3 separate regions of the Homo sapiens genome follow, and all the other regions are linked to region 2. Evidence: fine-mapped expression QTL. A gene starts in region 2. Each other region holds a variant in brackets. All regions are shown on one strand. Distances are between the middles of the regions. Region 1 overlaps BAD (BCL2 associated agonist of cell death). Region 2 holds the start of PLAAT3 (phospholipase A and acyltransferase 3). Region 3 holds the start of PLAAT2 (phospholipase A and acyltransferase 2).

The links.
Region 1: its variant is fine-mapped to the expression of PLAAT3 in whole blood (INTERVAL, PIP 0.97).
Region 3: its variant is fine-mapped to the expression of PLAAT3 in monocytes after Pam3CSK4 (Quach 2016, PIP 0.95).

The regions. Positions count from the first base shown.
Region 1 is chr11:64,276,587-64,284,617 of GRCh38, reverse strand. BAD (BCL2 associated agonist of cell death) reads left to right here. Exons shown (of 4, transcript NM_032989.3): 2 at 242-436. The coding sequence starts at 250. It also overlaps a transcript of GPR137 not described here. Among named protein-coding and RNA genes, the nearest start is that of BAD, 4.1 kb to the left of the region's middle. RefSeq lists a silencer at 1-73 and enhancers at 5,508-6,009, 7,536-8,031. The variant A/GA (reference allele first, on the strand shown) is at 4,497.
Region 2 is chr11:63,609,927-63,617,926 of GRCh38, reverse strand. It overlaps PLAAT3 (phospholipase A and acyltransferase 3), which reads left to right and starts at 3,494. Exons shown (of 5, transcript NM_001128203.2): 1 at 3,494-3,542; 2 at 3,859-3,927. The coding sequence starts at 3,913. LNCROPM (lncRNA regulator of PLAAT3 mediated phospholipid metabolism) reads right to left here and starts at 1,619. Exons shown (of 4, transcript NR_199012.1): 1 at 1,515-1,619. RefSeq lists silencers at 3,282-3,341, 3,362-3,441 and enhancers at 5,438-5,938, 6,692-7,201.
Region 3 is chr11:63,560,921-63,571,406 of GRCh38, reverse strand. It overlaps PLAAT2 (phospholipase A and acyltransferase 2), which reads left to right and starts at 8,028. Exons shown (of 4, transcript NM_017878.2): 1 at 8,028-8,091. The coding sequence starts at 8,083. RefSeq lists enhancers at 3,753-3,842, 3,853-3,902, a cis regulatory region at 3,695-4,222 and a silencer at 6,992-7,071. The variant CA/A (reference allele first, on the strand shown) is at 4,651.

The sequences.
Region 1 (8,031 bases), 670 kb before region 2:
GCCGTCACCACGGGCGGGGCGGGGCCTGGGTCCACCGGGGTTCTGAGGGGAGACTGAGGTCCTGAGCCGACAGCCTCAGCTCCCTGCCAGGCCAGACCCGGCAGACAGATGAGGGCCCAGGAGGCCTGGCGGGCCTGGGGGCGCTACGGTGGGAGAGGAAGCCAGGGGTACCTGCCTCTGCCTTCCAGGGCCACCGTTGGCCCCAGCTGTGCCTTGACTACGTAACATCTTGTCCTCACAGCCCAGAGCATGTTCCAGATCCCAGAGTTTGAGCCGAGTGAGCAGGAAGACTCCAGCTCTGCAGAGAGGGGCCTGGGCCCCAGCCCCGCAGGGGACGGGCCCTCAGGCTCCGGCAAGCATCATCGCCAGGCCCCAGGCCTCCTGTGGGACGCCAGTCACCAGCAGGAGCAGCCAACCAGCAGCAGCCATCATGGAGGTAAGTACCCCACCACCTCCACCTGCCGGGACACCTCACCCCCAGCCCACTGGCTCCCTGCATCCCAGTTGCATCCACAGGCACTGAATGCTTTGGGTCGGTCCCCAAACTCTCAGAGCCCCAGTTTCCTCTTTCGTAAAACAGCAATTAATAACCACCATTGTAGGACTGTTGAGTTAATTAGCAGGAACATATAGGATGCACTTGATTACAGAGCTGGTGCACATTAAAGCTAAAAAATGGTTGCTGCCGGGCGTGGTGGCTCACACCTGTAATCTCAGCACTTTGGGAGGCCAAGGCAGGAGGATCGCTTGAGCCCAGAAGTTCAAGGCCAGCCTGAGTGACTTAGGGAGACTCCAGCTCTTAAAATACATATATATATATATAGCAGCTATTAGTGTGGGGTTAGGACAGAAATCAGTGACAGGCAGGCAGTGATCCGAAAAGGAAAAGGGGCCTGCCTAAGGCCACACCTTCCTGGTGTTTCTTTCCTTAGAATGTGGGGGCTGGAAGCCTCCTTGGTGCCCTGCCCCAGGCTACATGCTTTCCCTGGGATTAGGCCTTCCAGCTCCCAGATGTGTTCTTTCTTGCCCTGTGGCTCGTACCCACAGCAGGACTGTCCTGGCACAGTGGCCAGGGGCAGATGACCTCAAGGGGCAGACAGTCCTCCCAGACAGCAGGGCTGTGTGGGGTGAGAAGCACAGGCTCCAAGATGGAAGGATGGACACTGGGGTTCTATGTCCATTTCTCAGTAGGCTCTAGCACCCCTGTGCCCAGCACTGGCCTTGGCACCTGGAACAACAACAGATATCTTCTGAACACAAAAACCAGGTCAAGCTGGGTGGGGTGGCACATGTCTGTAGTCCCAGCAACTCAGGAGGCTGGCTTGAGCCCAGGAATTCAAGACCAGCCTGGGCAACATAGCCAGACCCCATCTCTAAAAATAGAAAACTAGGTCATGTCACTCTGGCACTGCAGCTTAAAAGACCTCCTCCCCATTTTCAGGATTAAGAAGGCTTAAGAGGCCTCTTTCCCCTCGCTCTCTTACGGATAAACACCCACACTCGATTCTCTCAGATTGGACCCCATAGCTTGCTTTCTTTTTTTCTGTTTGTTTTGTTTTGTTTTGAGACAGGGTCTCGCTCTATCACCCAGGAGGGAGTACAGAGGTGCGATCTCAGCTCACTGCAGCCCGGAACTTCTGGGCTTAAGTGATCCTCCCACGTAACTGGGAATACAGGTGTGTGGACCACACCCAGTTAATTTATTTTTTACTTTTTCTTTTTTTTTTTTTTTTTTTCCTGAGACGGAGTCTCACTCTGCTGCCCAGGCTGGGGTGCAGTGGTGCAATCTCGGCTCACTGCAACCTCTGCCTCCTGGGTTCAAGCAGTTCTCCTGCCTCAGCCTCCAGAGTAGCTGGGACTACAGGCGCGTGTCACCATGCCGGGCTAATTTCTTGTATTTTTATTAGAGATGGGGTTTCACCGTGTTAGCCAGGGTGGTCTCCATTTCCTGACCTCGTAATCCACCCGCCTCAGCCTCCCAACAGTGTTGGGATTACAGGCGTGAGCCACCATGCCCAGCATTTTTCACATTTTCATGAGATGAGGGCAGGGGCGGGGTCTCCTTTTGTTGCCCAGGCAGGCCTCAAACTCCTGGGCTCAAACGATCCTCCTGCCTCAGCCTCCAGAACAGCTGGGACCACAGGTGCATGCCACCACACCAGCTCATTTTTTATTTTTTGTAGAGGTGGGGTCTTGCTTTGTTGCCCAGTCTTGTCTCGAATTCCTGGGCCCAAGCAATCCTCTCACCTTGGCCTCCCAGACTGTTGAGATTACTGGCGTGAGCCACCATGCTCAGCCTCCACAGCTTTCTTTAACTTCCTGAGCTTGCACTTGGCCATTTTTCTGCTCACAAACTTCCCCTGCTCTCTGCCCCCCACACACACTCAGCATTCACTCGCGCCACACAGTGAGTGCTCACCGTGTGACACAGGCTGTTCCAGTTGCTAGGGGGCCTCGGTGAACCCAAGCGTCAGGAATCCTTGCCCTTGTGGAGCTTACCTTCTAGTGAGCTGGTGGGGCCATGAGCAAACAAGCACAAAAGCATCCTATCATGCGTGAGAAGATTTGTATGGGGGCAGCATGTAAAAGAGTTAAGAGAGGCCGGGCGCGGTGGCTCACGCCTGTAATTCCAACACTTTGGGAGGCCTAGGTGGGCGTATCACAAGGTGAAGAGATGGAGACCATCCTGGCCAACATGGTGAAACCCCATCTCTACCAAAAATACAAAAATTAGCTGGGCATGGTGGCGCGCACCTATAGTCCCAGCTACTCGGGAGGCTGAGGCAGGAGAATCGCTTGAACCCGGGAGGCGGAGGTTGCAGTGAGCCAAGATCGTGCCACTGCACTCCAGCCTGGCGACAGAGTGAGACTCATCTCAAAAAAAAGAGTTAAGAGAATCCGGAGTCACAGGGGCGGGGGGAGTGATGGTAGCAGAGGTGGTCAGCACTCACCTTGGTGAGAAGCACCACTGGAGCCAAGGCCACAGGGATGATGGGAAGAGAGTTCCAGGCAGAGAGAAGGGCAGATGGTAAGGCCTCGAGGGCAACACCTGCTCCTGGCTAGGGTGGGCCTAGGGGAGGGGGTTTAGGAAAGGGTATTTGGAGACCTAAAGTTGAAGGTCATTCTAAGGACTCTGGCATTGCCTTTGAGTAAAAACCTGGAAAGGATTTGAGCAGAGGCAGCATGGTCAGATTTAGACATTCAGAGAGTCACCAGGGAGGTGGTGAGAAGTAGCTGATCCCTGGATTTATTTTTAAAGCAGAACTGGCAGGATCTGCTGATGGACTGGATGTGGGGTGCGAGGGAAAGAGAGGAGTCAGGATGATGCCAAGGAATTTTAAAAAAACTATTAGGCTGGGCGCGGTGGCTCACGCCTATAATCCCAGCACTTTGGTAGTTCGAGGTGGGCAGATCATGAGGTCAGGAGATAGAGACCATTCTGGCTAACACGGTGAACCCCGTCTCCACTAAAAATACAAAAAATTCTCTGGGCGTGGTGGTGGGCGCCTGTAGTCCCAGCTACTCTGGAGGCTGAGGCAGGAGAATGGCGTGAGCCCGGGAGGCGGAGCTTGCAGTGAGCAGAGATTGCACCACTGCACTCCAGCCTGGGTGACAGAGCAAGATTCCGTCTCAAAAAAAAAATTATTATTGGCCGGGCGTGGTGGCTCACACCTGTAATCCCAGCACATCGGGAGGCTGAGGCAGGCAGATCACTTGAGGTCAGGAGTTCAAGAACAGCCTGGCCAACTTGGTGAAATCCTGTCTCTACTACAAATACACAAATTAGCTGGATGTGGTGGTGGGCGCCTGTAATCCCAGCTACCTGAGAGGCTGAGGCAGGAGAATCACTTGAACCCAGGAGGTGGAGGTCGCAGTGAGCTGAAATCCTGCCACTGCACTCCAGCCTGGGTGACAGAGCAAGAGTCCGTCTCAAAAAACAAAAAATAAATAAAAATAAAATAAATTAGGCCAGGCGCGGTGGCTCACGCCTGTAATCCCAGCACTTTGGGAGGCCGAGGCGGGCGGATCACGAGGTCAGGAGATCAAGACCATCCTGGCTAACACGGTGAAACCCCGTCTCTACTAAAAATACAAAAAATTAGCCGGGCGTGGTGGTGGGTGCCTATAGTCCCAGCTACTCGGGAGGCTGAGGCAGGAGAATGGCATGAACCCGGGAGGCAGAGCTTGCAGTGAGCCGAGATGGTGCCACTGCACTCCAGCCTGGGCGACAGAGCAAGACTCCGTCTCAAAAAAAAAAATTATTATTATTATTATTATTATTATTTTATTTTATTTTTGACATGGAGTCTTGCTCTGTCGCCCAGGCTGGAGTGCAGTGGCACCATCTCAGCTCACTGCAAGCTCTGCCTCCCGGGTTCACGCCATTCTCCTGCCTCAGCCTCCAGAGTAGCTCGGACTACAGCCTCCCGCCACCATGCCCAGCTAATTTTTTTGTGTGTTTTTAGTAGAGATGGGGTTTCACCATGTTAGCCAGG[A/GA]TGGTCTCGATCTCCTGACCTTGTGATCCGCCCGCCTTGGCCTCCCAAAGTGCTGGGATTACAGGCGTGAGCCACCGCGCCTGGCCAAATTATTATTAATTTTAGAGACAAGGTCTTGCTATGTTGGCCAGGCTGGTCTTGAGCTCCTGGCCCCAAGTGATCCTCCCACCTTGGCCTCACAAAGTGCTGGGATTACAGGCATGAGCCACAGTGCCCAGCCAACACCAAGGAATCTGGCTTGAGCACCCGGTAGGATGAAGTTGCTTTTAATGGAGAAGAAACACTGAAGGGTGAGGGAGGATCTGGAGGCTACCCTAGAGGGTGGGATAGAGGGGGATTTTTTTTTTTTTTTTTTTTTTGAGATAGAGTCTTACTCTGTCACCCAGGCTGGAGTGCAGTGGCACGATCTCGGCTCACTGCAACTTCCACCTCCTGGGTTCATGCCATTCTCCTGCCTGAGCCTCCCCAGTAGCTGGGATTACAGGCATGCACCATGCCCAGCTAATTTTTGTGTTTTTAGTGGAGACGGGGGTTTCACCATGTTGGCCAGGCTGGTCTCGAATTCCTGACCTCGTGATCCACCCGCCTCAGCCTCCCAAAATGCTGGGATTACAGGCATGAGCCACCGCGTCTGGCCGCTAGAGGTGGCTTTTAAGCATCTGGTGGGATTTTTAGCAGGGTGCTAGTGGGAGCTGGCAGGGACTTGGAGTCTGAACCAGAGTTGTGCTTGTCTCAGTCCAGTTAGGGGTAGGGGCTTCAGGTGTGTGCAAAGGAAGGAATGGTAGATGTGGGGTCCAAGCTGGCTGAGCTTCAGGGAAGGGAGCAAGCCCTGGGAAGCCGCAGCATCGTTGGAGTTGGGGTCCCGGGGGCATGATCCACACAGGTTGGGTCAGCTGGTGGGAAGCTTGGGATGGAGTTATTTGATGGTGACAAGGCCTAGGTTATGTCCCTGGGAATGAGTCTGAGGGGAGAGTGGGACAAGATCATGGTAGAAGGAGTAGCAAGGTACAGAAAGGAGACAGGGTGCTGGTGGAGTGGCAGAGGACAGGAGTAACATTCTGCACAGGCCAGGGACGACACCTCCCCCCAGCCCCAGCTGCAGACCCGTAGGAAAGAGGGCTGCGGGAGAAGACAGCTGCCAGGTGAGGACAGAGCTGGATTTCTTAACCTTTTGATTTAGTTTTCAGTGTCTCCAAAAGCAAGTGGTTTCCCAGAAAAGATCAGCAAGTGCCAGTGCCCCGCCAGAGCCACGGGGCCTCTGCCCTCTCTACCTGCGCAGAGCAACTCACACTTGGTTCGGTCACTCCTCATAGTCCCTGCCACCAGGCCCCCCTGCTGGATGGCTGAGGTGTCCCCAGGGCAGGGACTGCAGCCACCTTGTGCTGTGACAGCCCACACAGCCCAGTGTCTGAAACAGGTGTGGACAGTGGAGAGGCAGAAAGAAGCAGCCCAGTGCTAGCCCCTGGGCCAGACTGCAGGGTTCAAACGTGGCTCTACCCTTCCTAGCAGGTTGAGCTTGAGCAGGTTAATTAACTCCATCTGCCTGAGTTTCCTCATCTGTAAACGGGAATAGAACTAGTCCCACCTCGCAGGGCTGTGGCGAGGACCTGATGAGTTAATATAGGAAAAGTGCTTGGAAACAGTGCCTGGCGCAGAGGAGGGGCTAAGTGTTTGCGGCTCTTATTATTAGAACTGCCATTGTTATTATTTATGTATATATATATTTATATATAAATATATATATATAATTTTTTTTTCCAAGATGGAGCCTCACTCTGTCGCCCAGGCTGGAGTGCAGTGGTGCAATCTCGCCTCGCAGCAACCTCTACCTCCCAGGTTCAAGTGATTTTCTTGCCTTTATGTACATTCTTGGCTTTATATATTTATAAAGCCTCAAATTTCTGGGCTCCAGCCATCCTCCCACCTCAGCTTCCTAAGTAGCTGGGACTACAGGCGCACGCCACCATGCCTGGCTAATTTTTTTATTTTAATTTTTGTAGAGACAAGGGTCTTTCTGTGTTGCTCAGGCTGGTCTCGAACTCCTGGCCTCAAGCAGTCCTTTTGCCTTGGCCTCCCAAAGTGTTGGGATTACAGGCATGAGCCACCACATTGGGCCTATATTTTTAAGTTATGGACAAAAATCCAAAGAACTATATTTTGTAACGTGAACATTCTATGAAATTCAAATTTCAAGGTCCCTAAAGAAAGTGTTAGTGGAACACAGCAAGGTGCAGTGTATTCATTTACACATTGATTATGGTTTCCTTTCAGCTCTGGCCACAAAGGTGAGTGGTTGTCACAGAGACCACGTGGCCCACTGAACCCCCTTTATAGAAAACATTTTCAGCTAACTTAGGAAAAGGGAAAAGAAAGTGAACAAACATTTGCCAGCCAGCCTTTCATACCTGTAATCCCAGCACTCTGGGAGGCCAAGGCAGGAGGATCACTTGAGCTCAGGAGTTCGAGACCAGCCTGGGCAAGATGGCAAGACACTTCTCTAAAAATTTTTTAAATTAAAAAATTAGCCGGGCATGGTGATGCCTGTAGTCCAAGCTACTCAGGAGGCTGAGGTGGGAAGATCGATTGCGCCTAGGATTTTGAGGCTGCAGTAAGCTGAGATCGTGCCACCCCACTCCAGTCTGGGTGACAGAGAGAGACCCTGTCGCTGTTTTTTAAAAACAAAAAGGAAACATTTGCCAACTTTAGAGTACTTTCTGATTTTATGAGCTCTGAGCAAGGTTGGGGGTGTTCTCTGCAGGCCTGAAGGGGCTTCTGTACCGGAAGGCTATAGTCAAGGCTGAGGCCTACAGGTGCCGGAGGCGGACAGGCTGCGAGTGTCTGCCCAGGGTGGGGTGGCAGCACTGGCCACTGTGCTGGCCACTGACGTCAGCCTCCCCCGGCAGCAGATTGTGTGTGGTCGGCATGTGGTAGGGGCAGGATCCAAACCCAGCCCTTGCCTGATGGCAGAGCTTCACTGCTCCAAACGGTCTGGAACACCACTGTTTTAATTAAGTGTGCAATTCAGTGTGCAAGTGTCTTGTAATTAAGTGTGCCTCTGTTTCCTCATCTATAAAACAGGGAGAACTTCGTATTCTCCTTCTTGGGAATCTGAGGACTCTGAAAATCCCAGTGCAGGGATGCTCGCGGAAGCATCAGCAGGGATGTCCGCCCCAGCCGCTGACTCAGAAGCCCAACACGCAGAGAATGTAAAGCTAGAGGTGCCATGCTGGGGCCTGGGGCACTTCTAGCCACAGCCACTACCCTCCACTTCCACACCCAGCTCCGGGCCAGGCTCTAGGCGGATGGCAAGAGTGGGCAGGCCTGGGCACCCACCCACGTTCACACCCAAGGAGGAGCCACACCCCTTCCCTTCCCCAGAGAAGGGAGAGTCTGGCCCAGGCCCTGCCCCAGCCCTCTCCTTCCCCCAGGGAATTCACAGACACTCCCCCAGGGTTTTTCCCTGTAAATAGAACACTTTTTAAAAATTCAATTTAGGGCTGGGCACCGTGGCTCACGCCTGTAATCCCAGCACTTT
Region 2 (8,000 bases):
AAAAGAGGTTTAATTGGTTCATGGTTCCGCAGGCTGTACAGGAAGCCTGGGGGAGGCTTCAGGACATTTCAGTCATGGCAGAAGGAAAAAGGGGAGTGAGCACCTCACATGGCCAGAGCAAGAGAAAGGGAGAAAGGGGAGAGGTGCTACACACTTTTAAACAACCAGATCTCCCAAGCATTAACTCACTATCAGAGAGCAGCACTGAGGGGGAAATTCGCCCCTGTGATCCAGTCACCTCCCACTAGGCCCCACCTCCAACATTGGGGATTACAATTTGACAACAGATTTGGGTGGGGACACAGATCCAAACCATATCACCCTGTCTCAAAAAAATAAAAAAGATTAACAGGAGAAAAGCATACACATTTCTTTAATACAAGTTTTACTGGCATAGGTGAGGCAGAAATTTAAAAATAATAATAAGTACTGCATTCATTCACTCCAAGAAAAGTAAAAGCCAAAGCCCAGAATGTGGCAAGGCAATGGTTAAAAAGAAAAGAAGAGCAAGTTTTCCTCTGCCTAGCAAGCTCACTTCAAGGACAGTTATAAGATAATGCTGTTTGAGAAGTCAAAACCAAAGGAATAGGCTCCAGATGCCCCACCTCCGGAGTAAAGGTGAAAGAAAAAAAAAAAAGGACAAAATATCTGGCTAAAAGAAATTTAGCCAGTTCTTGTTTTTACTTTCAATGCAGCTACAAGGCCACCAGCTATGCAAGGCCACAAGTTATGCCATGTCATCAGTTATGCTATAGATTATGTGACCTGTCATTATATGATTAACTGCCTTTGCTTTGCTGCTTCTGTAAATTTGCTTATAAAAATCCTGCTTGGTCTTTGTTCAAGGCTCAGTTTTTTGGATGTGAACCCACTGAGCTGGTGTGCACCTTAAAATAAATATCCTCCTGTATTCACCTATACTGGTCTCTCCTTTTTTTTTTTTTTTAGACAGAGTCTCGCTGTCGCCCAGGCTGAAGTGCAGTGGCGCGATCTCGGCTCACTGCAGGCTCCGCCCCCCGGGGTTCACGCCATTCTCTTGCCTCAGCCTCCCGAGTAGCTGGGACTACAGGCACCCGCCACCTCGCCCGGCTAATTTTTTGTATTTTTAGTAGAGACGGGGTTTCACTGTGTTAGCCAGGATGGTCTCGATCTCCTGACCTCGTGATCCACCCGCCTCGGCCTCCCAAAGTCCTGGGATTACGGGCGTGAGCCACCGCGCCCGGCCTATACTGGTCTCTCTACTCCTCTGCGTCCTGCAACACAGGAGCCCTCATAAGGAAATGAAGACCCAAAGAAGTAGTTGGTGTCAGTTACTTCTACACCGAATTGGACAAAGAATAGTAAGTTGTAATGAAGCAACTAAGAGCGGGGCCCGGTAGCTCACGCCTGTAATCTCAGCACTTTGGGAGGCCAAGGAGGGAGGATCACTTGAGTCCAGGAGTTTGAGACCTTGTCTCTATTTAAATAAAAATAAAAATTAAAAAGATGCAACTAAATTATGTGGGGAGGCTTACCAGATAACAGTTATTTTCCTGGAGAACATTACGTTCAGTGAAATAAGCCAGGCACAGAAAGACACATACTTTGTGATCTCACTTATATATGGAATCTAAAAAAATGGAACCCACGAGTAGGGAGTAGAATGGCAGTTACGGCGGTTGGGGGGAACAGGGGGGTGTCAGGGAGATGTTGGTCAAAGGGTACAAAATTTCTGTTAGGAGGAATAGAGGAATAAGTTCACCAGATCTATTGCACAACATGGTGATTATAGTAAATAACAATGTACTATGTTCTTGAAAATTACGGAGAGGTTTTGTGTTCTCACCACAAAAGAAGTATGTGAGGTAATGCATATGTTAATTAGCTCGATTTAGTTATTCCACAATGTATACATATTTCAAAACAACATGTTGTACATGACAAATACGTGGCAATTTTTGTCAATTAAAAAGTAAAAAATGGGCCGAGTGGTGGCTCACGCCTGTAATCCCAGCCCTTTCGGAGGCTGAGGCAGGTGGGTCATTTGGGGCCAGGAGTTCGTGACCAGCATGGTCAACATGCTGAAACCCTGTCTCTACTAAAAATACAAAAATTAGCTGGGCGCGGTGGTGCACGTCTGTAATCCCAACTACTCCGGAGGCTGAGGCAGGAGAATCGCTTGCCCGGAAGGCAGAGGTTGCAGTGAGCTGAGATAGAGCCACTGCACTCCAGCCTGGGTGACAGAGTGAGACTGTCTCAAAAAAAAAAAAACAAAAAACCCCAAAAAGTAAAAAATGAAAAAAGTTATTTCAACAAGGTCTGTACAGAATTCTTTCCGTCTCAACATCTCCTCTTTGAGGATAAGGATGTTGCTTTTTCTTCTAGTATAAGGAAGGTGTCCTTCAACATGGAAATTTCATCTGCTTTTAAGACACAGAAAAGGGGTCTTCTTGCACCTGCTGAGTTTTAAATGCCTTTAATTCAAAACAGCCAATATGCCATGGTGGTGTGTATATACACACACACACACACACACACACATATACACACATATATACACATATATATACACACATATATATGCACACATATATATACACACATATATACACACATATATACACACATATATACACACATATATACACACATATATATACACATATATACACATATATACACACATATATATACACACACATATATACACATATATACACATATATACACATATATATACACACATATATACACACATATATATACACACATATACACACATATATACACATATATACACACATATACACATATACATATATACACACATATATACACACATATATACACATATATACACATATATACACACATATATACACACATATATATACACATATATATACATATATATACACACATATATATATTTTGAGACTGAGTTTCGCTTTGTTGCACAGGCTAGAGTGCAGTGGCGCGATCTTGGCTCACTGCAACCCCCACCTCCCGGGCTCAAGTGATTCTCCTGCCTCAGCCTCCCGAGTAGCTGGGACTACAGGCGCATGCCTCCACGCCCGGCTAATTTTTTGCATTTTTAGTAGAGACGGGGTTTCATCGTGTTAGCCAGCATGGTCTCGATCTCTTGACCTCGTGATCTGCCCGCCTCGGCCTCCCAAAGTGCTGAGATTACAGGCGTGAGCCACCGCGCCCGGCCCTTGGTGGTATATTTTTAACTCCTTCAGTTTTTAAACTATAAGCCCATTCTTGAGTGAAGGCGAAAGTAAACCCATCATGGCCCTGCAGTGTGATGTGTGTGCAGAGGTCGAGTGTGTGCGACTCCTGGATGCTGGGCGCGCAGGGCATGGGTGAGGCGGGAAGAGGCGGTGCCGGGGGCGCGGGCGTCCTGCAGTCGCCGGGCTCGGGACCGGGGCCGGGCGCTCTGCGAGGCTCTCATTAGCCGGCGGCGCGGGGAGGGGCCGGGTGACCTCACGCCGGCCCGGCCACCGCGGCCATTAGACCCGGTCCAATTGCTGGGGCTGCAGCGCTGCCTCCGAGACCGCGAGGTGGGTGGATCGGGTCTTCCTGGAAGGGTGCGATAAGGCCGGGCGAGGTGCCTGGGATGCTTCTCCCCTTCCGCGAGGAAGAGATCTAATTGGGTAGGGCGGGTGTAGACTAGCCTGCCGAGCCGCCCGCTGGCACCTGCAGCCTCCTGGGCGCCCGCCGGGCCCCGGCGAGAAAGTTGTTAAAGGGAGCGAGGTGGTTGTTCCTGGGGTCCGAGGCGCGCCTCTCACGCCCTGCCCAACAGAAGCCGCAGTCCCGTGGGGTCTGGAGACGCAGTTTCCTGTTAATGACAATAAATCCCTGCTCCCCCTGCCTCAGACATCTACGCAGCGAAATCGAGCCTGGCCTTGAGGGTCCACACCGCGAGGGAAGATGCGTGCGCCCATTGTAAGTGCGGGGCGAGGCGGGGCTGGGCGGGGCTGGGAGCCCCCTGTTAGTGGGGACTCGTTGTCTCGGAGCCTGAATTACTGCTTCCGAGAGAGGAGCCTCGAGGATGTGGGGCCCGCACCTCTGTCAGCTGCGAGGCATCGGTGTCAGCTGCGGGTCGGCGCGCACCTGTTGGGAGTTGTCTCGGCGCGTCCTTCCGGGGGCCGGTGTGGGGGCGCCCTGCCTGAAACGCGCCCAGCGGAAGGCGGGACCCTCAGGAGGGAGGTGGCCAGGGCAGGTCTGTCCGCAGAAATCTGGCGCTGCCCTCCGGAGCCACACCCGGACAGCGGGACAGGCCTTGGGGGCTATGTCAGCTGACTCATCCCATGACCAGCCCTGCCAGCGGAGTCCCAGCGTTAACTGTGCTTGGCGACTGCCCCCCTTCCGCCTGGCCGGACCGCAGCAGAGGGATTCAGAGGATGGGATTTGGAGGTGGACCCTCCTAGTGTTGAGCATCTGGTTGTGAGACTCTCATCAAGTTCAAATCCACTGTTTCCCAGAGTGAAGGTTTTGTTTTATTTATTTATTTTTATTTTTATTTTTATTTTTTGAGACGGAGTCTCGCTCTGTCACCCAGGCTGGAGTGCAGTGGCATGATCTCGGCTCACTGCGACCTCCGCCTCTCGGGTTCAAGCGATTCTCCTGCCTCAGCCTACCGAGTAGCTGGGAGTACAGGCGCCCGCCACTACGCCTGGCTAATTTTTTGTATTTTTAGTGGAGACGGGGTTTCACCGTGTTAGCCAGGATGGTCTCGACTTCCTGACCTCGTGCTCCGCCCGCCTCGGTCTCGCAAAGTGCTGGGATTACAGGCGTGAGCCACCGAGCCCTGCCGCAGAGTGAAGATTATATCACTTAATACTCAGAAAGTGCCCAGAACAATGCCTAGCACACATTTTGAGTGCTCAACCATAATTCACTGTTGTTATTATCTCAGTCCATATAAAGAGTTTTGCCTGGTGTCAGGGTGTATCTGGCATGTTTGTTTGACACCTGGAGTGGTCACTTTTTAATATCATTCTCTATCTGATAACATTATTTTTAGCAATAATCATGCAATGAATAGTAATAATGTCCAGAAAGAAACACAGTGAGCATTTTCTTTTATTGAACCTCGTATATGTAATCATGACAGTAAAAACCTTATATATGTAATCATGAGAGTAAAAAAATTAAAAATGAAAAAGTAAATGTGAGTGCAAAAGCAGGAAAAAAAATGGATTAGTAGGTTTTAATCACATTAATGTATTTTTGAAAAAAGGAAAAACTTAGATGTAGGATGGTATCAGAGATGAATAATAGTAACACTACAACTTCTGTTTTTGAAACTTCTGAAAAGTTGTCCATGACATTGTCAAAATCAATCTTTGCATATTCATGGTCAGTATTCAGGGGAGCTATATCTACTAGTCCATCTTTGCTCCCAGTTGATTGAAGAACACTTTTTATTAATTTTAATTTCAAAAGCTGCTTTCATATAAAACTAGAGAGACAAAGGAAAAGCCTTAACCATCAGGATTAGTTTGGCAGAGATTTATAAAAATCCCATTTCATAATAAATTCCAGACATTGCAATACTGCCTAAATCTTTTTTTCTTTAATCAGTTCTACAGCTTAAATATCTCCTTTTTAGAGACATTTTCACTAAGACAGGCTGGGTGCAGTGATTCATTACTGTAATTCCAGCACTTGGGGAGGCCAAGGTGGGAGGATCACTTGAGCCTAGGAGTTTGAAACTACCCTGGGTAATATAGCAAGACCCCATCTCTAAAAACAAAACAACAACAAAATCTTCACCAGACAGTTCATCATACTTTTTTTTTTTGAGATGGAGTTTCACTCTTGTTGTCCAGGCTGGAGTGCAATGGCGTGATCTCGGCTCGCTGCAACCTCCGCCTCCTGGGTTCAAGCGAGTCTCCTGCTTCAGCCTCCCAAGTAGCTGGGATTACAGGCATGCGCCACCGCGCCTGGCTAATTTTGTATTTTTAGTAGAGACAGGGTTTCTCCATGTTGGTCAGGTTGGTCTCGAACCCCTGACCTCAGGTGATGTGCCCGCCTCGGCCTCCCAAAGTGCTGGGATTACAGGCGTGAGCCACCGCGCCCGGCCCATCATACATTTCAATTATATTTGGCAAAATTCCCCAAGTTTTTCTTCTGCAAAAATCAGAGAAAATGGCTGAGTGATAGTGAACCTTGACATTTATTTAATCCATTGCTTTAGAAATGATGAAAATCACCCAGGCTTTCAAACATCATTCTTTTAGTTTCTTTTGGCACTGGGAGACAGGCTGTTTTATGTTTAAACACAGGAAAATGCAGGACCACAGAGATTGGCTACATAAACTGTATAAATGGAGTTCAAATTATTCTGAGCCTTTAGGAACTGATTGTTGAAACAGAACTTATGGCTGAGTCTGTGTGTTTCAGGAACTGATAACTGCGTGTTCTCTGATTTAACTTGTAGAAGACAAAAGTTTTAGAAGGATAAGAAATAAAAATGTGCTAATTGGTGGCTCACATGTATATGATTAAATCTCAATGGTAACTGCAGCAATTAGAATTTAGGTGAATAAGACATTTTTTGGGGGAGTGGTATTTTATCACTGACATTGTTTAAAATGGCCAGCACATGGTAGTAATAAAAGGCAGACCGACTTTTGATAGGTTTTATTATTGTTTTAAAATTCCCTTTGGGCCAGACGTGTGGTTCATGTCTGTAATTGCAGCACTTCGAGAGGCCAAGGTGGTAGATCACTTGAGCCCGGGAGGTCGAGGCTGCAGTGAGCCGAGATTGCGCCAGTGCACTCCAGCCTGGGTGACAGAGCGAGAGCCTGCAGAAAAAAACAAAACACAATAAAACAAAAAACTCCAAACAAAACTATCCTCTACAGCAATCTTGCTCCTATTTGTCTACAGTGGGGAAGGACATCCTGCCTCCCCACTGTGGGCTTTTGCGGCTTTTATGTTAGTTGTTGTAGCCGCCCCCAGGAGCCTCCTGGGGGATCGAAGAGGGTGTGTCCACAGTTTCCTGAGCCCTTTAGTTCAGCCTGTGATGCCTCCTGCTGTGATTATTTCTCTCCTCTCTGTGTTCCAAATTTGCTAGAATGAGTGGGCGGGGAGCCTTTCCCTTCCCTCCTCCACCTGCGCCATCCTTGAATCTGTGGCTTGTTGAGCAGCTGCTGCCAAGGAAATGAAACCCCAAAGTGAAACTGAGGCTCCATAATATGAGGAAATTGATAGGCCTTCCCTGTTCTCTGAGTCTAGACTCCGTCATTGACTGCTCTGTGATCTGAGTTTGCTTGATTTTCTGATGGATCTGTGTGGAACTAGTTAAGGTGCAAAGGGGAGGGGAGAGAAGAAGAGAAGAGGACCCTTCTTAAATAGCAGTTGGGGCTTCAGGCCTTCCAGGGTTTCATCCCTATTCAGCCACGGGCTGAGAGGGGCTGGAGGAGGAAGCCGTGCATCCCTCCACCATACACCTCTGCTGAGAACATTGTCAGTGCCAGGCTGGATAATGGTGAATTAGACGGAATTCTGGTCCTTGGAATGCTGGCAGGCTGGGCAAGGAAATTGATCGCTTCTTCCCACAGGCTAGGCTTAACAATGAATCATCCAATAATAGGGCTATGGCTTGGCTGTGGAGGCAGCAGCAACTCGCTTTGCTGAGGCATCAGGGGATGCATTGAGGAGTGGACATGTTGAGCCCATCTCGAGGGATGAGTAGGAATCTTCCAGGTGAACGGCAAAAGGGCATTTCAGGCCGAGAGTGCGGTGAGGCAGAGGCCAGTTTTGCCATGGGAGCACAGTTGTTGAACGTCAGTACCTTGGAGTGAATTACTTGGTGTGGTGGGAAGAACCTCACCTTTAAGCTCAGGCAGATCTGCTGCGGAATCCTGGTGCTACTTTTCGGGGAGCTCCGAGACCTTAGGGAAGTTAATTCCCATCTCTGAGCTCAGTTTCCCGATTGGTAACATGGGGCTCTTATAAGGATTCCAGGTAACAGGTGAAAACCCCCAGTAGTGCTTGGTGGTAGTGGT
Region 3 (10,486 bases), 48 kb after region 2:
GACAAACATCATCATAGTGGGAGATCTAAATACACCTTTCTAAGGAACTGATGAATGAAGGAAACATAGAAGTCTATAAAGACATAGAAAATTTACCAACAAGCTTACTTAATGACCATATATAATATAATTGTGAAATACAGATTCTTTTCAACTGCACACATGGAATATTTATGAGAGTCTTAAAGCAAGCCAACAAATTTTAGATTAGTAACGTAGAAATAATCTTCTTTAACCGTAAAGCAATTAATTCAGGAATCAATAGCGAGAGATAACCAGAAAAACCCTATACTTTCAGGAATTTTAGAATATACTGCTAGATACATTATGAGTCAAAAAAAGAAAACTAATGGGAGTTAGATAATATTTAGAGCTGAATGATAACAAAAATACTAGATACCAATATTTGGACCATGCAGCTAAAGGGGTGCTTAGAAAAAATTTTGTAGCATAAATCCTTACATTAAGAAAGGAAAAGGTGACTTGGCATGGTGGCTTATGCCTGTAATCCCAGCACTTTGCAAGGCTGAGGTGGGAGGATCGCTTGAGGCTAGGAATTCAATACTAGCCTGGAGAAAAGAAAAGAAAAAGAGAAAGAAAGCAAAAGAAGAAGAGAAAAAGAAAGAAAGGAAGGAGAGGTGCAAGTTAAGGAGTTAATTATCCAATTTAAGAAGACAGAAAAAGGGGAAGACAATACAAAGATATGAGCAAAAATAAATGAAGAAAAACAAGCATATAAAAGAGAGAAGGCACAGCAAATGATTTAGGAGTAAAAAAGAGACCACAACTATAGATGCTGCAGAGATTAAACCAGCAAAAACAAATATTGATAAATAATTATAAAAAATTGGAAAATTTTGATGGAATTGATATATTCCAAGAAAAATGTCATCAAAATTGAACCAAGAAAATATTTAAAAATCTAAGCAGTCCTTTGCTCATTAAAGGATAAATCAGTAGTTAACACTTTTTCTACAAAGAAATGGTGTGCCTGGATGGTCGTGTAGGTGAGTTTTACCAAGGATTATGGTAACAAATGAGTGAGACCTCTATGGAGAAAATATTGAAGGACATTAAAGAAGACCTCATAAATGGAGAGAGATATATCATTAATGGATAGGAAGCCTCAATGGCATAAGTATGTCAGTTTCTTTCAAAACTCACCTATGGATTCAATGTGATTCCAAACCAAATCCCAACAAGGTCTTTCCTGGAATTGGAAGCCAGATTCTGAAATGTATTTGGAAAAGTAAAGAGGCAGGGTTAGCTATTTCATTAACAAAGAAGGAACATCAGGCAGGGAGACTTGTGTTATTATTAAGGCTTATTATAAATTATTATTGTGATCAAGATAGTGTATTTTTGGTGTAGAGATAGTTAAATTGGCCAATGGATTGAGCCAAATTTCCAAAACAGACCCACAAATAAATGAAACTCTAATTTACAACAGAGACAGTACTGCAGATCATGGGGGGAAAGGATGAACTATTGAGGGATTGGCAAACTTTTTTGGTAAGGGCTAGACAGCCTTACGTGGTGTTCACAGTGTCTGTTGTAGTTAGTCACCTCTGCTGTGGTATTGTAAGAGCAGCTATAGACAATACTGTACGTGAACAAATGATCATGGATATGTTCTAATAAAACTTTATGTGCATTGAGATTTAAATTTCATATAATTTTCATGGGTCATGAGTTATTAGCTTTCTTTTTGTTTTTCTCAGCCATTTAAAATGCAGAAACCATTATTAGCTACTGGGCTGTACAAAAACGGGCAAAGGAGACCAGGCATGGTGGTTCACACCTATAATCCCAGCACTTTGGGAGGCAGAGGCAGGAGGATTATTTGAACTGGGCAACATAGTGACACCCAGTGTCTATTACAAACAAAACAAAAACAGATGAAGGCCTGCATTTGCCTGTAGGCTATAGTTTGTTGATCCCTAACTAGTAAATGGTATTCACATATAACCACATGGACTTTGCACTGCACAGAAAAAGTCAGTTTGGGGAGAATTTCAGACTTACATGTGAAGGACAGATGTCAATTTTTATTTTTATTTTATTTTTGAGACAGAGTCTCGCTCTGTTGCCCAGGCTGGAGTGCAGTGGCATGATCTTGGCTCACTGCAACCTCTGCCCCCTGGGTTCAAGCAATTCTTGTGTCTCAGCCTCCTGAGTAGCTGGGATTACAGGCGTGCACCACCACGCCTGGCTAATTTTTGTATTTTTTAGTAGAGATGGGTTTCACCATGTTGGCCAGGCTGGTCTTGAACTCCTGACCTCAGGTGATCCACCCACCTCAGCCTCCCAAAGTGCTGGGATTACAGGTGTGAGCCACCGTGCCTGGCCAAATGTCAATTTTTAGAAGCAAATACAGGAGAACATCTTTATGACCTTACTGTAGTTCATAAGCACAAAAAATAAAGACAAAAAGTAAGGTACAAAGAGATAAATTTCATTACATTAGATAAGAACATCTGTTTATCAAAACATACTATGGAGAGTATTAACAGTAACCTGTTCAGTAATGGTGACACACTGGGAACACCCCTAATATGGTTTGGCGGTGGTCCCCACCCAAAATCTCATCTTGAATTGTAATTCCCACGTGTCAAAGGCAGGACCAGGTGGAGGTAATGGGATCGTGGGGGTGGTTCCCCCATGCTGTTCTAATGATGGTACGTGAATCTTGTGAGATCTTATTTTTATTTATTTATTTATTTATTTTTGAGATGGAGTCTTGCCCTGTCACCAGGCTAGAGTGCAGTGGTGCGATCTTGGCTCACTGCAACCTCCGCCTCCCGGGTTCAAGCGATTCTGATGACTCAGCCTCCTGAGTAGCTGGGACTACAGACTTGCACCACCAAACCCAGCTAATTTTTGTATTTTTAGTAGAGATGGGGTTTCACTATGTGGGTCAGGATGGTCTTGATCTCTTGACCTCGTGATCCGCCTGCCTCGGCCTCCCAAAGTGCTGGGATTACAGGCGTGAGCCACCGCACCCGGCCAATCTGGTGGTTTTATAAGAATCTGGCATTTCCCCTGCTTGCACTCACTCCATCCTGCTGCCCTGTGAAGAAGGTGCCTGCTTCTCCTTTGCCTTCTGTCATGACTGTAAGTTTCCTGAGGCCCCCCAGCAATGTGGAAGTGTGGGTCAATTAAACCTCTTTCCTTTATAAATTACCCAGTCTTGGGTATTTCTTCATAGCAGTGTGAGAATGGACTATATACAACCTCCAGTGATTGTTGACAGGAGTCAGGATAAGTAAACTGTGGCACATTCCCATTTGCCACATGGGAGTACCATGCAAATGAATGAATAGCTATGGCCAATCAACATGGGTATGAAACCTAATATTGAACCAAAAATATTGTTATGGAATGCTTGATGTTTGATTCTACTTTTACAAACTTTAAAAATTATAAACTAAATGTATATTGTTAAGGATTACATTTATATATTATTAAGGGATGTGTTTATAAAAAAATTTAAAAATCAATAGGACAATAGAGACAAAATTCAGGAGAGTGGCTACAACTGCATTAGGAGGAAGAGGAACACAGGGTTAATTTTTTTGGTAATAGCTTCACTGAGGTATAATTTACATACTGTTGACGGTGATTGTGAGACCTCTGTTCTTGTCTTCTTGGTTAAAATAATTTTAACAAGAGACACAACCATAGAGGAACAACAGAAAGCAATGTATTGCAAAAGAGAAAGAACACTCTGAAAGCTGAGTGTAAAAAGAAACAGCTGAAAGTAATTTAGTGCAAAGATAAAACTCTGAAAGATACACTCTGAAAGGTACACTCTGAAAGATAAGTCAGAGTGGGCTGATCAAGAGTGAGTCAGCAAAGACTGGCTCTGAGGGAACTCCCTTTATGAGAGTCTTATGTGATTATTCATAGTGGGTGGGAAGAGGTGTGTTCCTAGTAATCATGTTCTGGGTGGTCCTCTGGGTGCACATGAGCAGTTGCTGTACATGCTTGTTCATACATTGCATGTCTCATTGCCGTCTTAAATCTCTACCCAGGGGTGTGTTTTTTACTATTATAATGAGCAAAGGGTCATTCTGAGGACAAGCAAAGTGAAAATGCACATGCTCTCTACAGGGGAAAGTCCCCAGTGAAGGTAGTTCTGCTTGGATGAGCTTGATTACAATGTGAGTGCTGAGGTTTGTTGTGTTGTTGGTGCGGTTGCTATGTCCCAATGAACATGGTTACAGGGCTCATTGTGCTGTTGACAGTGTGGTTGCCATGTCCCAAGGACGTGGTCATCTCCTTGACTATCTATCCTGCCTCAGTACCATATAGTTCACTTACTAAAGTATATAATTCGATGCCCTTTAGCATGTTCACAGTCATGAAACTATTACCACAATCAACTTTAAAACCTTCTCATCACCTAAAAAGAAACACAACCTGAATCCCCTAGCCCTTCCATCCCTAAATAATCATTACAATCATGAATTTGCTTTATGTCTCTGTGTGTTTTCCCATTCTTGACAGTTCAAATAAATGGAATCATATACTATATGGCTTTTGTGACCAGCTTCTTTCACTTATCATGTTTTCAAGCTTCCTCTATATTTTAGCATGTATCAGTACTTCCTTTTTATGGCTGAATAATATCACATCATACGAATATAC[CA/A]CATTTCGTCATTTATTCGTCAGTTGATGAACACTTGGGTGTCACCTTTTGGCAATTATGAATAATGCTGAGTATTAGTCAGGGTTCTTCAGAGAAACAGAACCAATGGGAGGTTATCTATCCATCAAGATTTCTTTTTTTTTTTTTTTTGAGATGGAGTCTCGCTCTGTCACCTCTGCTGGAGTGCAGTGGCGCCATCTTGGCTCACTTCAAGCCCCGCCTCCCGGGTTCATGCAGTTCTCCTGCCTCAGCTTCCGGAGTAGGTGGGACTACAGGTGCCCACCACCACGCCCAGCTAATTGTTTTTTTTTGTATTTTTTAGTAGAGACGGGGTTTCACCGAGTTAGCCAGGATGGTCTCAATCTCCTGACCTCGTGATCCGCCCGCCTCGGCCTCCCAAAGTGCTGGGATTACAGGCGTGAGCCACCATGCCCGGCCCCATCAAGATTTCTTACAAAAAATTAGCTGCTGCAGCAATCACAGAGGCTGAGAAGTCCCACCATCTGCTGTTTGCAGGCTAGAGACCCTGGAGACTCAGGAAAGGCAGTGGTATCATTCCGTCTGCGTCAAAAGACCTGGGAATCCAGGGAGCCGATAGAGTAAATCCCAGTATGAGGGCAGAAGATGAGGTGAGCTATCTCAACACAAGTAGTGAGGCAGACGAAAAGGGGACGAATTTCTCATTCCTCTAGCTTTGTTCTAATCAAGCCCTCAACAGATTGATGCTCCCCACTCACATAAGGGAGGGTCATCTGCTTCACCCATTCCACCAATTCAAATGCTGATCTCATCTGGAAGCACCTCAACAGACATGCCCAGACATCACACAGCATCTGGGCACCCCATGGCCCTGTCGGATTGACACAACAAATTAACCACCACGGCTGCTATGAACATCTGTGGACAGGTTTTTGTGGGACACAGGGCTTATTTAAGAAATTGGTTATTTTCTATTTCTTCAACTAGGTTTATTGGTACCTGTTTTGTTATTATTTCTAGTGTTTTATACTTATGTTGCAATTATTCTTCTATATGGATATAAGATTTAATAAAATCCTTTATTTATTTATTTATTTATTTCTGAGACATAGTCTCACTCTGTAACCCAGGCTGGAGGGCAGTGGCGTGATCTTGGCTCACTGCAACCTCTGCATCCCAGGTTCAATAGATTCTCCTGCCTCAGCTTCCCGAGCAGCTGGACTACAGGCGTGCGCCACCAAGCCCAGCTAATTTTTGTATTTTTAGTAGAGACGGGGTTTTGCCATGTTGGCTAGGCTGGTCTCGAACTTCTGACCCAAGTGATTCACCCACCTTGGCCTCCAAAAGTGCTGGGATTACAGGCATCAGCCACTGTGCCCGGCCAAAGCCCATTAAAATTATATGTAGCCCAAGATATTCCTGGCATGTACATAGAAAGATAACATTGCCTCTAGAAAGGGGAACTGGGTTGCTGGAGGCTGGAGGCTGGAGGTGGGGAGAATGGAGGCTTATCTTTCCTTTTATAGCCTTTTATACAATTAAACAAACATAGAGAGCGTGCATGTGAACAAAAATGTAAGTATTCCAGGCTGTAGGCCTAGAGCTTACCAGCAGGCTGGGTGTGGCCTGCCCTACCCTGTTCTCTGTCAGTAGAACTTTGTCACCTTTCCTGCTCAGCATGAACAGTAGGGAGACAGCAGAATTCTCATTCCACTGGCCCTTGATTTGCAGACTCTCCTTTCCTATAGCTCCTGGACATAATTTCCTGACACTCTGAACAGCTTGGATTCGGTGAAAAGCCACAAGCCCCAGCATGAGTACAGTGATGTTCCTCCCCAACTCCGCCCTGCATGGTCTGGTTGGTCATTGTGCCAACCCACCTGAGATCCTTTCAGCAGACAGCACGTGGAAGTCCTCCTGCCCCAGGAAACAGGGGTGTGATGTGGTTGCAAGGGGAGGGCAGGCATAGGAAGAACTGAGATTGCTGGACTGGAGGTCAGCCCCTAAAAAGATGATCAGCAAGCCTGAGTGGGACCGGCCCAGAGGTCTCTGGACAATGGGGCAGGAGATAATTAGCCAAGCCAACCCTACTGTCTCCCTCCAGAAGGAATACTTTGAAGATTGTCCCACTGCAACTCAGAGGAGAATGGAGTGGAGGTGCTGAGAGAGGCCGTCTCCATGGGAGCAAGACCACATGACCACGTGAGCTGAGGGAGTAGCTGGTCATGCAGAACTGCTGTGGCTCCCAAAGAGTTTTCCAGTTCTGGCTCCAGTCCATCTGCATCCCCACACTAAAGCTCTTTGTTTGTTTGTTTGTTTATAGCCTGAAGAGGGTAAGTTATTGGTCCTCGCCCCCATGCCCCACAGTGAGGATGCTCAGCTCCCCCCAGCCCCACCCACCCCTTCCTGTCCAGTTTGCTCAGGACCGGACAACTATATGTAGATGACAGAAGAGATACTTATTTGGAGCTTGGGTGAGATAAGCATGCAGGTGCCTCAAAGAAGCAACCTCTACACACCCAGTACTGGGTTTTGGTTTCCATTTGGTGTGGAATGAGTGTTTCTGAACTGTGGGTGAGAGGCAGAAAGGGGAGTGGTTTCTATACTGCTGTCCAAGCAGGCTCACTCTGTTTCCAGGGTAGAGGAATGTGCCTCCAATAATACGATTTTTCTAGGGCCATGGGGTTTGAGGTTGGTGGAAATGTTTGCCTGTCCCGGCAACCATCATTCCCAATTTGGAGGCATGAATCTCAGTCTCTCTGGGGCTCCTCTCTCCTTTTTGAAATTTTCCCCCATGGTCTCTGTCTCTATATCCTCCCTTGCCCCCACAACCACTGGATCTTGCTTGTTCCACCTGAAACTTGGTGATTGTCAGCTGTGCCCCTGACCACACTGCCACTAAGTCCTTCTCAATCTATATCCTGAGCTCTGATTCCTCTTCTGTCTGGCTGATTTTCATGCCGCCTTGCCTACTTGATATGTGCTCTGCCCCTGTTTGAAGACAGGGAAAATTTTACATGAACCTTGATCTATGTTCTGTTTTTTTTTTTTTTTTTTTTTTGACTGAGTCTCGCCCTGCCGCCCAGGCTAGAGTGCAGTGGCACGACCTCTGCTCGCTGCAAGGTCTGCCTACTGGGTTGACGCCATTTCCTGCCTCGGCCTCTGGAGTAGCTGGGACTACAGGTGCCCACCACCATGCCCAGCTAATTTTTTCTATTTTTTAGGAGAGACGGGGTTTCACCGTGTTAGTCAGGATGGTCTCGATCTCCTGACCTTGTGATCCTCCCGCCTCAGCCTCTCAAAGTGCTGGGATTACAGGTGTGAGCCACCGCACCCAGCCTATGTTCTGAAATAGTTGTATATGGGCTGGGTCACAGGGAAAGTGAAACTCAGAGCTAATTTAAGGCTGGACACAGAGTCAGCAACACACAAGACATCATCTTGAAGGAAGGATGGCTTTGGTAAGTCCCCAGAAACGGTTTTAAAGCTTTGATTTGAGGAACAACCACCCTATTAGTGATGATTATGTGTATTCTTGTTGGTCTACAGCTCTGGCATGGAGGGCACATGGGCACATGCTGAGTTCTGGGGGTCTGGCTCTCTCAGACACTGTGGGAAGGAACCACGGTGCTGGGTTATGACCCTGGAGGCTCCCCAGCCTCAGCTGCCGCATGGGGTCTGGTTCTACTGTGGCCAAAGTTTGCGTTTATGCTTTTCCAAGCCCTCCTCTGGCCAAACTACCAGTGGCTCTGCTAAGCCTCCTGAAGGCAGGAATGGTGGGCTCAGGGAGAGCAGCCCTTGGTTTACCCCACAGGCCGCCTCCTCTGTCACATCATCCTCAGTGGGAGGGATTAGCTGGGGAGGGAGGGTCCAGGGAAAGGGCTCCAGCTGTGTGGGTGGCAATGGGGGCTGTCAGAAAGGGCTCTGTCTCCCTCGCCTCCAGGCAGGGCCAGTCCCTCTACTTTCCCTCCTTCCCTCCAATTCCTTCTTAGTTTCCTTCTTCCTTTAGACCCAATAGCAGCCACATTTCCCAAGTGCTCAGGGGTCCAGACACCATGCTAAACACTTCTTTTATTTAATCCACACCAGGTAGTTAATAAGCAATCCTATGAAGTAGGCATAATTACTGCCAACTTCATGGATAGGAGGAATGATATACTGGTAAGTATAGAGAGGGGGCTGCCCAAAAGTCAGAGAGGGAATTCGAACTTAGGAGGCTCTGACTCTAAAGCTTCGACTTAAAAAAGAAAGAATGTATTTAATTCCAGGAGAAATACGTGAACACATTCACTTTGTCTGAAAAACCGAAACTCTAGCCTGGGCAACATAGTGAGATCCCATCCCTACAAAAAATATTAAAATTAGCCAAGGATAATGGTATGTGCTTATAGTCCTAGCTTCTTGGGAGGCTGAGGTGGGAGGATCACTTGAGCTGGGGAGGCTGAGGCTTCCTGCAGTGAGCTGTGATAGTGCCACTGCACTCCAGCCTGGGTGACAAAATGAGATCATGTCTCAAAAAAAGCCAAAAGCCAAAAACCAAAACTATTAGCATAAAAACTAATGTCCCCTTTGACCATCCTTCCCATCTGTACAGCCTTTCCCCTCTGTACAACCTGGTGCGTATTCTTCCAAATATTTTTCTGTTTTTGCATACATATATGGCTACCTTACAAGTATTGGTTTGTAGCTTTGGGGTTTGTTGTAGTTTTAAATTGCATTCCGTGAGGACAATTCAGTTAGGAAATGCTTGAATCTTTTCCTTTATTTACCAGCTTTTGGAATAATAGGGTGATTCTTTTCCATCCTCCAAAGATGCCTAGTGTTTTTAAAAAATATCCTTATGAACACGTGGGTTTTAACATATTTGATGTGTTTCAGTTTGTGTACAGTTATTTTTATTATTTTTTTTTGATGCTCAAATTGTCCCTTATTTGGTCAAGTTGACTCTTGACCCCTCTAGTCAAAGGCTTTACTTTTTTTTAAATTTCGAGGTTCTGGGGGGGAACATGTGGTATTTGGTTACATAAATTAGTTTTTAGTGGTGATGTCTGAGATTTTGGTGTACCTATCATCTCAGCAGTGTACTCGGTACCCAATGCGTAGTCTTTTTTTTTTTTTTTTTTTTTTTTTTTGTGATGGAGTCTCACTCTATCGCCCAGGCTGGAGTGCAGTGGCACGATCTCTGCTCACTGCAACCCCTGCCTCCCGGGTTCAAGCAATTCTCATGCCTCAGCCTCCCAAGTGGGTGGGATTACAGGCACCTGCCACTATACCCAGCTAATTTTAGTATTTTTAGTAGAGATGGGGGTTTCACCATGTTGGCCAGGCTGGTCTCAAACTTCTGACCTCAGGCAATCCACCCATCTCGGCCTCCTGAAATGCTGGGATTATAGGCGTGAGCCACCACACCCAGCCCCAGTGTGTAGTCGTTTATTCCTCACCCACTCCCACCCTTTTCCCTCAGTCTTCAGAGTCCGTTGTATGATTCTTATGCCTTTGCGTCCTCATAGCTTAGCTCCCACTTACGAGTGAGAACATAGGATGTTTGATTTTCCATTACTGAGTTATTTCACTTAGAATAATGATCTCCAATTCCATCCAAATTACTTCAAATGAAAGGCTTTACTTTTAACTATAGCTCCCCACCAGACTTTGAGTTGGCTGGCACTCTCACCACCCTCGGCAGCAGTTCAACTCCTTTGTGGCTTGGCTCAGCTGAGATAGGGGGAGGAGGGGTGCTGGCTGGCACCAGAGCATACCGGAAACAGAATTTATGTGGCAAGGGCTGTCTCCCATTCTGGGTGTGGCCAGGGCAACATTCCTCGCACCCATGCACCCTCCAGAGGGGCACTGCCC